Regions from separate parts of the Homo sapiens genome. Here regions 1 and 2 are each reported to be linked to region 3. The links are microRNA targets in miRTarBase. Many come from high-throughput screens and were not tested one by one. Region 3 holds a microRNA gene; each other region holds the end of a gene's coding sequence.
Evidence for each region. The annotated mature microRNA hsa-miR-3197 reads GGAGGCGCAGGCUCGGAAAGGCG and lies in region 3 at 1,037-1,059, opposite strand. An mRNA with a match to its seed (bases 2 to 7 or 8) in the 3' UTR can be bound and repressed. Matches are read on the target gene's strand: a 7mer-m8 pairs with bases 2 to 8, a 7mer-A1 pairs with bases 2 to 7 and ends in A, and an 8mer does both.

Region 1: miRTarBase lists CCDC127 as a target of hsa-miR-3197. The part of its 3' UTR that is shown has no 7-base or 8-base seed match.
Region 2: the mRNA of A2ML1 is a reported target of hsa-miR-3197. Seed matches in the 3' UTR shown: 7mer-A1 at 949-955.

Annotation. Positions count from the first base shown.
Region 1 is chr5:202,685-205,933 of GRCh38, forward strand. It overlaps CCDC127 (coiled-coil domain containing 127), which reads right to left. Exons shown (of 3, transcript NM_145265.3): 3 at 1-3,249. The coding sequence ends at 2,613. Among named protein-coding and RNA genes, the nearest start is that of LRRC14B, 13 kb to the left of the region's middle.
Region 2 is chr12:8,874,307-8,877,541 of GRCh38, reverse strand. A2ML1 (alpha-2-macroglobulin like 1) reads right to left here. Exons shown (of 36, transcript NM_144670.6): 34 at 3,015-3,117; 35 at 2,530-2,571; 36 at 755-1,484. The coding sequence ends at 2,531. Among named protein-coding and RNA genes, the nearest start is that of PHC1, 39 kb to the left of the region's middle.
Region 3 is chr21:41,165,371-41,168,622 of GRCh38, reverse strand. MIR3197 (microRNA 3197) reads right to left here and starts at 1,066; the gene lies at 994-1,066. BACE2 (beta-secretase 2) reads right to left here and starts at 463. Exons shown (of 9, transcript NM_012105.5): 1 at 48-463. The coding sequence starts at 359. RefSeq lists a silencer at 455-904.

The sequences.
Region 1 (3,249 bases), not on the chromosome of region 3:
AGCTAGGCTGACAGCACACTGGACATTAGAAACAGGATGAGGATTAACAATTTGCCTCGAAAATCATTCACCTACAAAGCAGCTGACTGTGTTTTCTTCATTTAAAGACAAACGTGGAGTGGTTCACACAGGGACACCCAGCAGACCGGATTGCCGCAGGAATGGAGCCTGCACCGCTCTTTAGGCAAGGGTCTTGATGCATCAGGAAGTACAAACAACAACAGGAAGAGTTTTGTCCAGATTTACCGAAAAAATGACTTTTTAGGGGCCGGGTGCCGTGGCCCACACCTGTAATCCCAGTGCTGTGGGAGGCCGAGGTGGGGGCGGTGGATCACCTGAGGTCAGCAGTTCGAGACCAGCCTGGCCAACATGGTGAAACCCCGTCTCTACTAACAAAACAAAAATTAGCTGGGTGTGGTAGCGCACGCCTGTAATCCCAGCTACCCAGGAGGCTGAGGCAGGAGAATCGCTTGAACCCAGGAGGCGGAGGCTGTAGTGAGCTGAGATCACACCACTGCACTCCTGCCTGGGTGACAGAGATTCCCTCTCAAAAAAAATAAAAAATGAAAATAAAAGTGACTTTTTCTCAGATAAAGCGATGGTGGTAGAGCAGAGAGGCACGCTAGCAGCCACTGAAGAAGAGAAGCATCTGAGCACCCTTAGCCATCACACCACTGCACTCCTGCCTGGGTGAAGCATCTGAGCACCCTTAGCAGGGCGTGGGTGCCGAGAGCAGAGCATGGCAGGGGGCCCGTGTCTGTTGCAGGCAGCGCATGTTGGCTCTGAGCCCGCCTCCGCCGCGCTCAAGGGGTTCCACGGATTTCAAACAACGCATGCGTGTAAAGCGTGTACAGCTCAGGGTGGAACATGCACTCCATGAATAGTGGCTCTCATACTGCCACGTGGGCTCTATGAGCTTAGGATTTTTAACAGTTGCTCCTACTCCCGTACAGACGGGCAGGAGGGGAGAACATGGCCCTTGAAAGCAGATGGACAACCTGCTCCCGCTCCTGCCTGGCCACACACTATCAAATCACTGCACACAGGTTACTCGCGGTTCTGGAGAAAAGGTGCCCGGGCTCAGACTGGCTCCAACACTACTACCTGCGTGACCTCAGGCAGGTTAGCTCTTCCACATCTCCGTAAAGTGAGGTGCGTGGTGACGAATTCACACAGCAGGCCCAAGGCTGTGTCCTACCAGGGCCTGTGTGCAAGGCTGGCCCTTGACTGACATCTGGGAACTCGGATTCTGGGAGACTTCCCAGCACCATTAACTCCTACGCGTGGCTCTGTGACCACAGTACTTGTGCTCACGGCACAGACCACACCAAACCCACCCTCCTTCTGGACAAGTGGGGAATTCCCACACAGGCCAGGCAGGGGGTACCACATGACCAGCCCTTAGCAAAAGCCCCAGGTGCTGAGTCTCCAGTGAGCTTATTCTTAATAGTTAGGTGTGTCCTGTATGACTCCAGGGAGTGGATCCTGGGGTGTCCACACGTGGCTCCTCTGAGCGCCACCCACACACCCTCTCCCTTTGCTGATTCTGCTCTGTGCTGAGTCCAACCCTGTGCTGAGTCCTGTGAGATCTCCCAGCAGGTCACGCACCTGGGGGCTGGCCTTGGGGCACCTCCGCAAAGCGTAATAGTAATACTCACTTCACAGGATTCGACTGAGGATTCCATGAGTGAACAGGTATACAGGCTCAATTCCCAGTAGCTATGTGTGACATGGGGTGATAAGTGCCTGTCTACCTTGTTGGCTGTGGTAAACAATGAGATAATACATATAAAAATATTTTGTAAAGAGTGAAGAATTACACAAAAAGTGGCATTATTACTCATAAATGGCAAGTATTTTGAGTATATATCATTGCTAATAAGTATCTGCTTGCTGAATACAGACACAAGCCAAATTCCAAACACACATTAGGTAACAACTGGATACAACACACACACATTAGGTAACAACTGCATACAACACACACACATTAGGTAACAACTGCATACAACAAACACACATTAGGTAACAACTGCATACAACAAACACACATTAAGTAACAACTGGATACAAGAAACACTTGGTATTTCCCCTTTATGGAGTGAGAGAGATCTTTAAAATATAAACCCTTGATAATATAATATTACTACTTCCTATTACCTGTTATGCAGTTCTACACATTATCTGACAAATTCTTAATGTAATCTGGTGACAGAGAAAAATAATTTGAGGAGAAAGTATTTAGGGAGTGATGAAACAGACAGAAAATTACTTGTGGTAAGGACCAGTATTGTATTTGACTTTTTAAAAAACCATTTTTACCCTGGAGCTAAAATACGAGGTTATACTGTTCTGCTTAATACAATACTGGCAGCCTAAAAATGCTTCAAGAAACCATATCCCCAACAGCGGCAGAGCATCGGGAGGAGACCCTCTGTCTCTGAGGCTTCGGTGCACTTCTGCTCAGACGGTGGCGGGAGTGGAGGTCGCTGCTGAAGGGTGACGGTGTGGCCATGACACGGGCAGCACGGGAACGGAAGACGCCGGAGACCCAGAAGGCGCATGACTGCCTGGCCTCGAGTCACTAAAAGCAGTTTGATTTCACTCTTGTCTTACTTTTCTAGTATGGCTTCCTCTACTCTCTTAAACTTCTTCAGTTCGACAACGAGTTCCCAGTATTTGAGATAGAGCCACATGAGTCTGCCATTCTGGCGTTTGTTGGTGTTCCAGACATCACCACAGTATGTATCATGCTGAAATATGTCGGTGAGACCGGCTGCCATCTCTAGGTCAGCGGCGACGGGGTCGACGGACGCTCGCACCAGTAAGCTCTTCTCTATCTCCAGCCGCTTGCTGCGAGGAAGAAACAGACTGCAGTAGATATTCTGTCTTTCTGTGAGAACAGCTTCAAATTCTTTCAGCAAAAGCCTGGCTCTCCTTTGCCAGTTTTCTTCCCTTTGCAGGCAGCTCAAATACGCACTTCTCAAAGGCTGCACCTGTCTTTTTTCTTGCATCACCTGGGCCCGTTCCTGTTCCAGAAGCTTCTTTTCTTCTACCAACTTGCGTCCCTGAGAGATAAGGGCTTCTCGGTAACTAGCAGTTCTGTTTTGTTCCTTTTCGAGTTCCAAGGACAACTGAGCGACAGCACGCCGATTTTCTGAGATCATGGCGTGGTACTTGGCTTCCAGATCCTGTTGAAAAGCAGCAGTTCTCCGACGGTAGGCTTCTCTCTCTTTTTCTACTTCTTTC
Region 2 (3,235 bases), not on the chromosome of region 3:
GTGTCTGCTCATGCCCCTTGCCCACGTTTTAATGGGATTATTTGTTTTTTTCTTGTTGATTTGTTTAAGTTCCTTATAGATTCTGGATATTAGTTCTTTGCTGGAGGCAGTTTGTTAATATTTTCTCCTATTCTTTAGGCTGTCTGTTTACTCTGTTGATAGTTTCTTTTGCTGTGCAGAAGCTCTTTAGTTTAAGTAGGTCCCATCTGTCATTTTTTATTTTTGTAGAATGTACTTATTTTCCCTGACTTTTCAGTCAGAATTTGCAATCAAGGGGAGCATAATGGATCCAGTGGATACCCAGGATAAAAGGGTGTAATTGCCTAGAGAATCTTTTCTGTTAAATATCATTCATCTTACTTCCCTTATCCCTTTGCCTCCAAACCTGTTTCCAAAACAAAAGCATTCCTCTGAGGAAGTGCTTGCACGGTGATAGGTGATAGATAGCCCATGTGGGGAGAGGTTGGGAGAATCATGCAGAAGAGAAACCGAGAGAGATGGAAACGGCATTCTGGCCAGCCACTTTTCTTGTAATCCATCACTGTTTGCCCTGCAGTAGCGGGCTGGTTGAGCAGAGCCCCATAATTAAAATTCTCTATTCTAACCTGTCCTCACATCTTTAAGATGATTCTTTGAGAAGTCTGGGTTAAAAGGTTTAAGGAAGAAACCAAACTGTGAGTTTTGGGGGAAAGGATGATCATCACCTTTAAAAGAACTTTTGGTTTCCAAAGAAATATGCATAGAACTAAATGCACAGATTTTCTTTTCCATTTTTATTTTTTTAGCCAATTTCCAAAGCCCTAAATCACATTTTCCCTTAGACTGAAACTCTAGAAAAACATTATTATTATTATTATTTATTATTTTTTGAGACAGGGTCTTGCCTCATTGCCCAGGCTGGAGTGCAGTGGCACAATCTCAGCTCACTGCAACCTCCACCTCCAGTGTTGAGGCGATTCTCCTGCCTTGGCCTTCCAAGGGGCTGCGATTACAGGCCCGTGCCACCACACCAGGCTAATCTTTGTATTGTTAGTAGAGACGGGTTTTACCATGTTGGCCAGGCTGGTCTTGAACTCCTGACCTCAAGTGATCCGCCCACCTCGCAATCCCAAAGTGCTGGGATTACAGGCGTGAGCCACCGCATCCGGCCTAGGAAGACATTCTTATCTTCTCTAGTTCACCCTCTACCACCGTCTCCTCTCTGGAGAGCCCCCTGAATGGCTAAATAAAACAGCTAAACCACCTTTCTTCCCCCTATGACCCTGCCCATGCAACGCCTCCTCTGAGTGATTGTTCCTATCCCATCTCCTTGCAAAGGTAGTAGAAAGTATTATAGCTGAGGTTCAGACATATTCATTTGTTACCCATATACTAGTCAGAGAAATTAAATTATTTGATTGAATGAGTTCTGCTTCAAGCGACAGAAGAATGTTCCACCCTCCAGTAAATGTCACAGAGGACTAATTGAGTTTCCAGCTCCTATCCTGAAAAGCGAACAATCAAACAAAAAATAGAAGACACTGTGATACTCAGAAGCTCATTACATACATAGAGGATACTTGACCTCTCTATATATATACAAAAAAATCTCACAAATGCACAGTTGGATTATTAATAGTGTTATCTCACAGGTGTAGAATCAGGTAACCTTTACTTTTGTCTTAGTATTTTCATATAACAAAGATGTATCATGTAAAAATATCAGGAAAAATCAATCCATTTTCAATCTGATAGAAAAAAGTATTGTTTTAATACCAAGCATTAGCTTTTTCTTCTGTAAACTATTTTCAAGAGTTTAGGACAGGCCGGGCACAGTGGCTTACACCTGTAATCCCAGCACTTTGGGAGGCTGAAGTAGGCGGATCACCTGAGGCCAGGAGTTTGAGACCAGCCTGACCAACATGGCGAAACCCCATCTCTATTAAAAATACAAAAAAAATTAGCTGGGCGTGATGGCACGTGCCTGTCATCCCAGCTACTCAGGAGGCTGAGGCACAAGAATCGCTTGAACTTGGGAGGCAGAGGCTGCAGTGAGCTGAGATCACGCCACTGCACTGCAGCCTGGGCAACAGAGCCAGATCCTGTTTAAAAAAAAAAAAAAAGTTTAAGACAAAAAAGGAAAGCTCACTTTCTATCAACAATAGCTTCCAAAAGACAATAACAGGGCTGAGTGTGGTGGCTCATGCTTGTAATCTCAGCACTTTGGGAGGCCGAGGTGGGCAGATCACCTGAAGTCAGGAGTTCGAGACCAGCCTGGTCAACATGGTGAAACTCTGTCTCTACTAAAAATACAAAAATTAGCCAGGCATCATGGTGGGCGCCTATAATCCCAGCAACTCAGGAGGCTGAGGCAGGAGAATCGCTTGAAGCTGGGAAGTGAGCCACTCAACCTCCGCCACTGCCCTCCAGCCTGGGCAACACCGCGAGACTCTATCTCAAAAAAAGACAATGACAGTAACTCGAAAAGAGGCTCCTCTTAACTTCTGCCACCCTAACCCATAACTCCACCCATTTCTCCGCTGGACTTACCTCATTCACAGGGATCAGAATACTGAATTGTTGCCTGTTCATCTGTGAAATGAAATAAGTCATATTATTACTTTGAGGGCCTCCTATATTCAGAGGGAAAATGCTTCAGAAAAGCTACTGCTTGAGCCCCTTCCAGAGAATCTCTACAGGTTATGAGCATATTCAGAATTACAAGAAAGTTTCAATCACTAATATTTGTACATTGTGACAAACTATTAATCATACCAAAAATAATAGAAATAGCCCTTTGAGAACAATGGTTCACATTGTTCTCCGATCACATAAAATGTCTCTAGTGTACGCAACTTAAAAATGGCACACAACTGAATTAAAATATTTTAGGAGATTAGATAATTTAATTATGTGCTACTTGGCTTGGGAAGGAGTATTTGTAAAATTAAGAGAGAAGCCATGAAGAATGAGGCAGAAGTAAGTTGGGAGATGCAGGTAAGATCTCAGATCTCATTTCAGCTCAGCCCTCTCACCTGGTAGGTAGTAGTCATAGACCTTGATGGTTGCTGGTTTCAAGTTGGTGACCAGCACACTTTGGCTGATGGTGAAGGTGTAAGTCTGAGTGTTCTTAATGAGCTGTGGGGAAGACAGATGAAACAGTACCTTAGAAGTAAAATGAAAATTACACTGTATGCAATGTGGAATAAAAGACCCTTGCTGTCTTCATGTAGATTTTCTGAAGCCCCGCCAGGCA
Region 3 (3,252 bases):
CCTCCAACGAGCCCGAAAAGCCCGCGGCAGCAGCCGGGGGTCCCTACCTTCTGCGGGGGGGTCCCGATCAGCATCTCCAGGTAGTAGCCGCGGCCAGAGTCCCCCTGCAGGTTGTCTACCATGGCCAAGAAGTTGGCGGCGCCCGCGGGGGACGCCAGGGCAGGCTCCAGGGCGAGCGCCAAGCCGTCGGCGTGGCGCTCGGCAGGGGTCCCGGGTCCCGGGGTGGGCGCAACTACGCGGTTCGTGGCCGCGGCCACCCGGAGGGGCAGCGTGAAGGGCGCGGGGGCCAGCTCCGGGGCGGCGCGCAGGAGCCACTGGGCCAGCAGAGGCAGCAGCAGCGCCCGGGCCAGTGCGCCCATGCCCACGGCGGGGCCCGGGGGGCGCGCCCAGCCTAGCCGGTCCCGTCCCGTCCGGCAGCCGCGGCTCAGCGACTCGGCCGGCGCGCGGGGCTGCGGGCAGGGATGGGCGCGCACCGGGACCGGCGGCGGCGGGGAGGACGGGAGGAGGGCCCAGGGGAGGAGGCTCGCGGGAGGGGAGGAGGCTCGCGGGAGGGGAGAAGGCGGAGGCCGGGGAGGCGGGCGCGGAGGCGCAGAGCCGCCCCAGCCCGCGCCGCCAAGTTGGGCAAGTTCTTCTCCGCTGCCCCCTCTGGCGGCCGCGACTGCCCCGCAGCGGCCCAGCCCCTCCCCCGCGGCCAAGGTCACAGCGGGGCTCGGGGGGCGCCGGGGTCCACCTGCGCCTGCCCTCCCCACCCTCGCCGGGCTCAGGCCGCGCCTCTTCCCCGGGAAACTCGAGTCCCGAATTTCCTCGGAAAGCGCCCCAGCGGCCACGGCCAACGGATGTGACGAGGCTCATCTGATACCGGGGGGAAAGTTTCGAGAACCCTTAAAGGGGCAGCGAGGGCCTGAACTAGGGCCCCGGCCCCGCGCGCTTGGGGGTCCGCGGGGGTCTATTCGCCCGGCAGTGGCGGGAGCTTCCGGGGGTGACTCGGAGGTCAGCGAGGAGAGCGGTGGATCGGGAAGGAGCCTGGAGCCTCGCGCGCCTTTCCGAGCCTGCGCCTCCCCTCGCCAAGCTCCTCCGCCTCATTTCAGTCGCCGGGTCTGGCTGCTTTCGAGGCGTTTCCCGTCCGCTGCCCCCGAGCCCCCGCCCTCAGTCCAGCCCGTTCCCCGGCCTCATCCCCCGGCGGCCCCTGGGTGGTTTTAAAGAGGTCTCAGTGGAGGCTGGGAGGGTGGAGGGTGGAAGGAGGCAGAGGAGGATGCGAGAGCTTTGGAGAATTTTCCCTAAAAATCGGGGGAGGTGGGGGGCGTGGCTGCTGCTGGCGCCTGGCCCCAGCCTCATTGCCCCCCCTTACTCCCTCTGTTGCCCACAGCTAGCTGCGAAGCTGGGCTTCACCCCAGCCACCTTCCCCCCACCCCCGCCCCCTTCGCCCCCTCCGCCGCGCCCCTGTCCCTAATGCAGGTCAGATGCTACTGGAACCCGCTGCCTCCCCTGGCACCCAGCCCTCAGGCCACCTAGTAAGTTGCTGTCAGGATCCCAAATCAGGGCCACGAGTCCACCCTGCTGTGATCCCTGCCCTTCTCCCCCACCTCCCCTTCTATCCCCAGCCAGCTCTCTGCGGACTGTCTAATTAATACTCGTTTAGCCATAGACGCCAAGACGCAGAAATGCGTTGAGTAATGCAAGCAACGAGGGTTATTTTATTTTAGATACTAAAGGCAGGGGGGACAATTAGACAAGCTAAAGTCCATCGATTTCTACAGAAACAAGGAATAGAAAATTCTTTGTACCTCCTCCAGCTGAATTATGTTGGCTGTTTTAAAAAACAAACAAGCCCATCTTCAAACAGTGGGGAGTTAGAAGCCAAGCTTCCCCGAATCACTGCAATTTTCAGCTACTTCTACTCAAGATTTGATTTTTATTCCTGTGTTCCCAATTTTAGAATCACGTCTAGCTCTGCAAGGGACCTTTATGTCAGAGATCTTCAAATGTATTGATTTTCAGATGACTTTAACCATAAATCACACTTCCCCCAAACTATATCTCAACTTTAACAAATCCCCAACTCCATGAAGAAAGGCATAGCTGGATCCCGTGATATAACTTAAGTTGATATTCTCCATAAATCTGCATAGTTATTCCAGAGCCCTTCTATTCATATATTCACGTTTCAGATTCAAGGTTGTGGAGGGAATGTGATTTTTTTTAAAATGATTATTTATACTCCTTGGTGTCCAGTCTTGAGGGGTTCAAAAAGACATTCAGACAGCTCTGGGAAGAATATAATCTTTCTGAAAAGCACATGAAATGTATTAGGGCCATTGATAAAGAGGCTATGTGACATATAAGTTTAATACTAGAGACATTTGCTCTGTCTAATAATTAAAAGCCACAAGGGAAATTTTTAAAAAATCAAGTCTAATTAAAGTTTGTACAAGAAACGCGTGACTCAGTCTAGGGTGAGTATTCCTAAGCTTTTCATTTTAAGAGGGATGGTTTGGGTTTGTGGGGAAAAGGATGCATAAAGATCCAGGGATGGAGGAGCACACAGGCTTCCATGGATGGCAGAGCTGTCTTGTCAGAAAATAATGCAAGCTGAAGGGACAGCATTGGGTGACTGTCTCCTTGGTTGTCTCTGTTTTCATGAATGGTCTTAGAGCATATGATCCCTATTCAAGCCTATGGTGCTGGGTGGATTTGGGAGACAATAATTTTACTTTCCAGGTGTTGGAACTGAAATGATAAGTGGCAGCCCTCTCATGGAATAGCATTGATTTTTAAACCATGGTGACCGATGCAGGGCAGAGAAAGGAGAAGGTGAGACCCACCCTCCTGACCTCACCCCTAACATCAGAGGACATGGGATACTGCCCTGCTCTTCCTCACTCCACCAGAGCCTCCAACTCCTTCCCTTCTCCTTACAGCCTCTCAGCACCCTCGTTTTCAGCCATGGCCTTCCTGAGTCCATTCAGGAAAACAAAAGCCCTGCAATTAGATGGGCCTTCTCTCCTTGGAAAGAACAAACATCACCATTAAACATGACCCTGGACGGTGGAGAGCGAGGAAGGATCTCACTCTCCAGCCCAAATGACTAATAGAAGATTCCTGGTAGGAACGTGTGGCGCTCAGCCAGAAAGAGTCACCATCCCATGTTCCACTGATGTTTGTTGTCTCTCACTGCCAGCTCCCAGTTCCTTTTACACCTGCGATTGTAACCGGGCCTATGTTAGATGAATCATAAGGTGTTTGTTTTCCTTT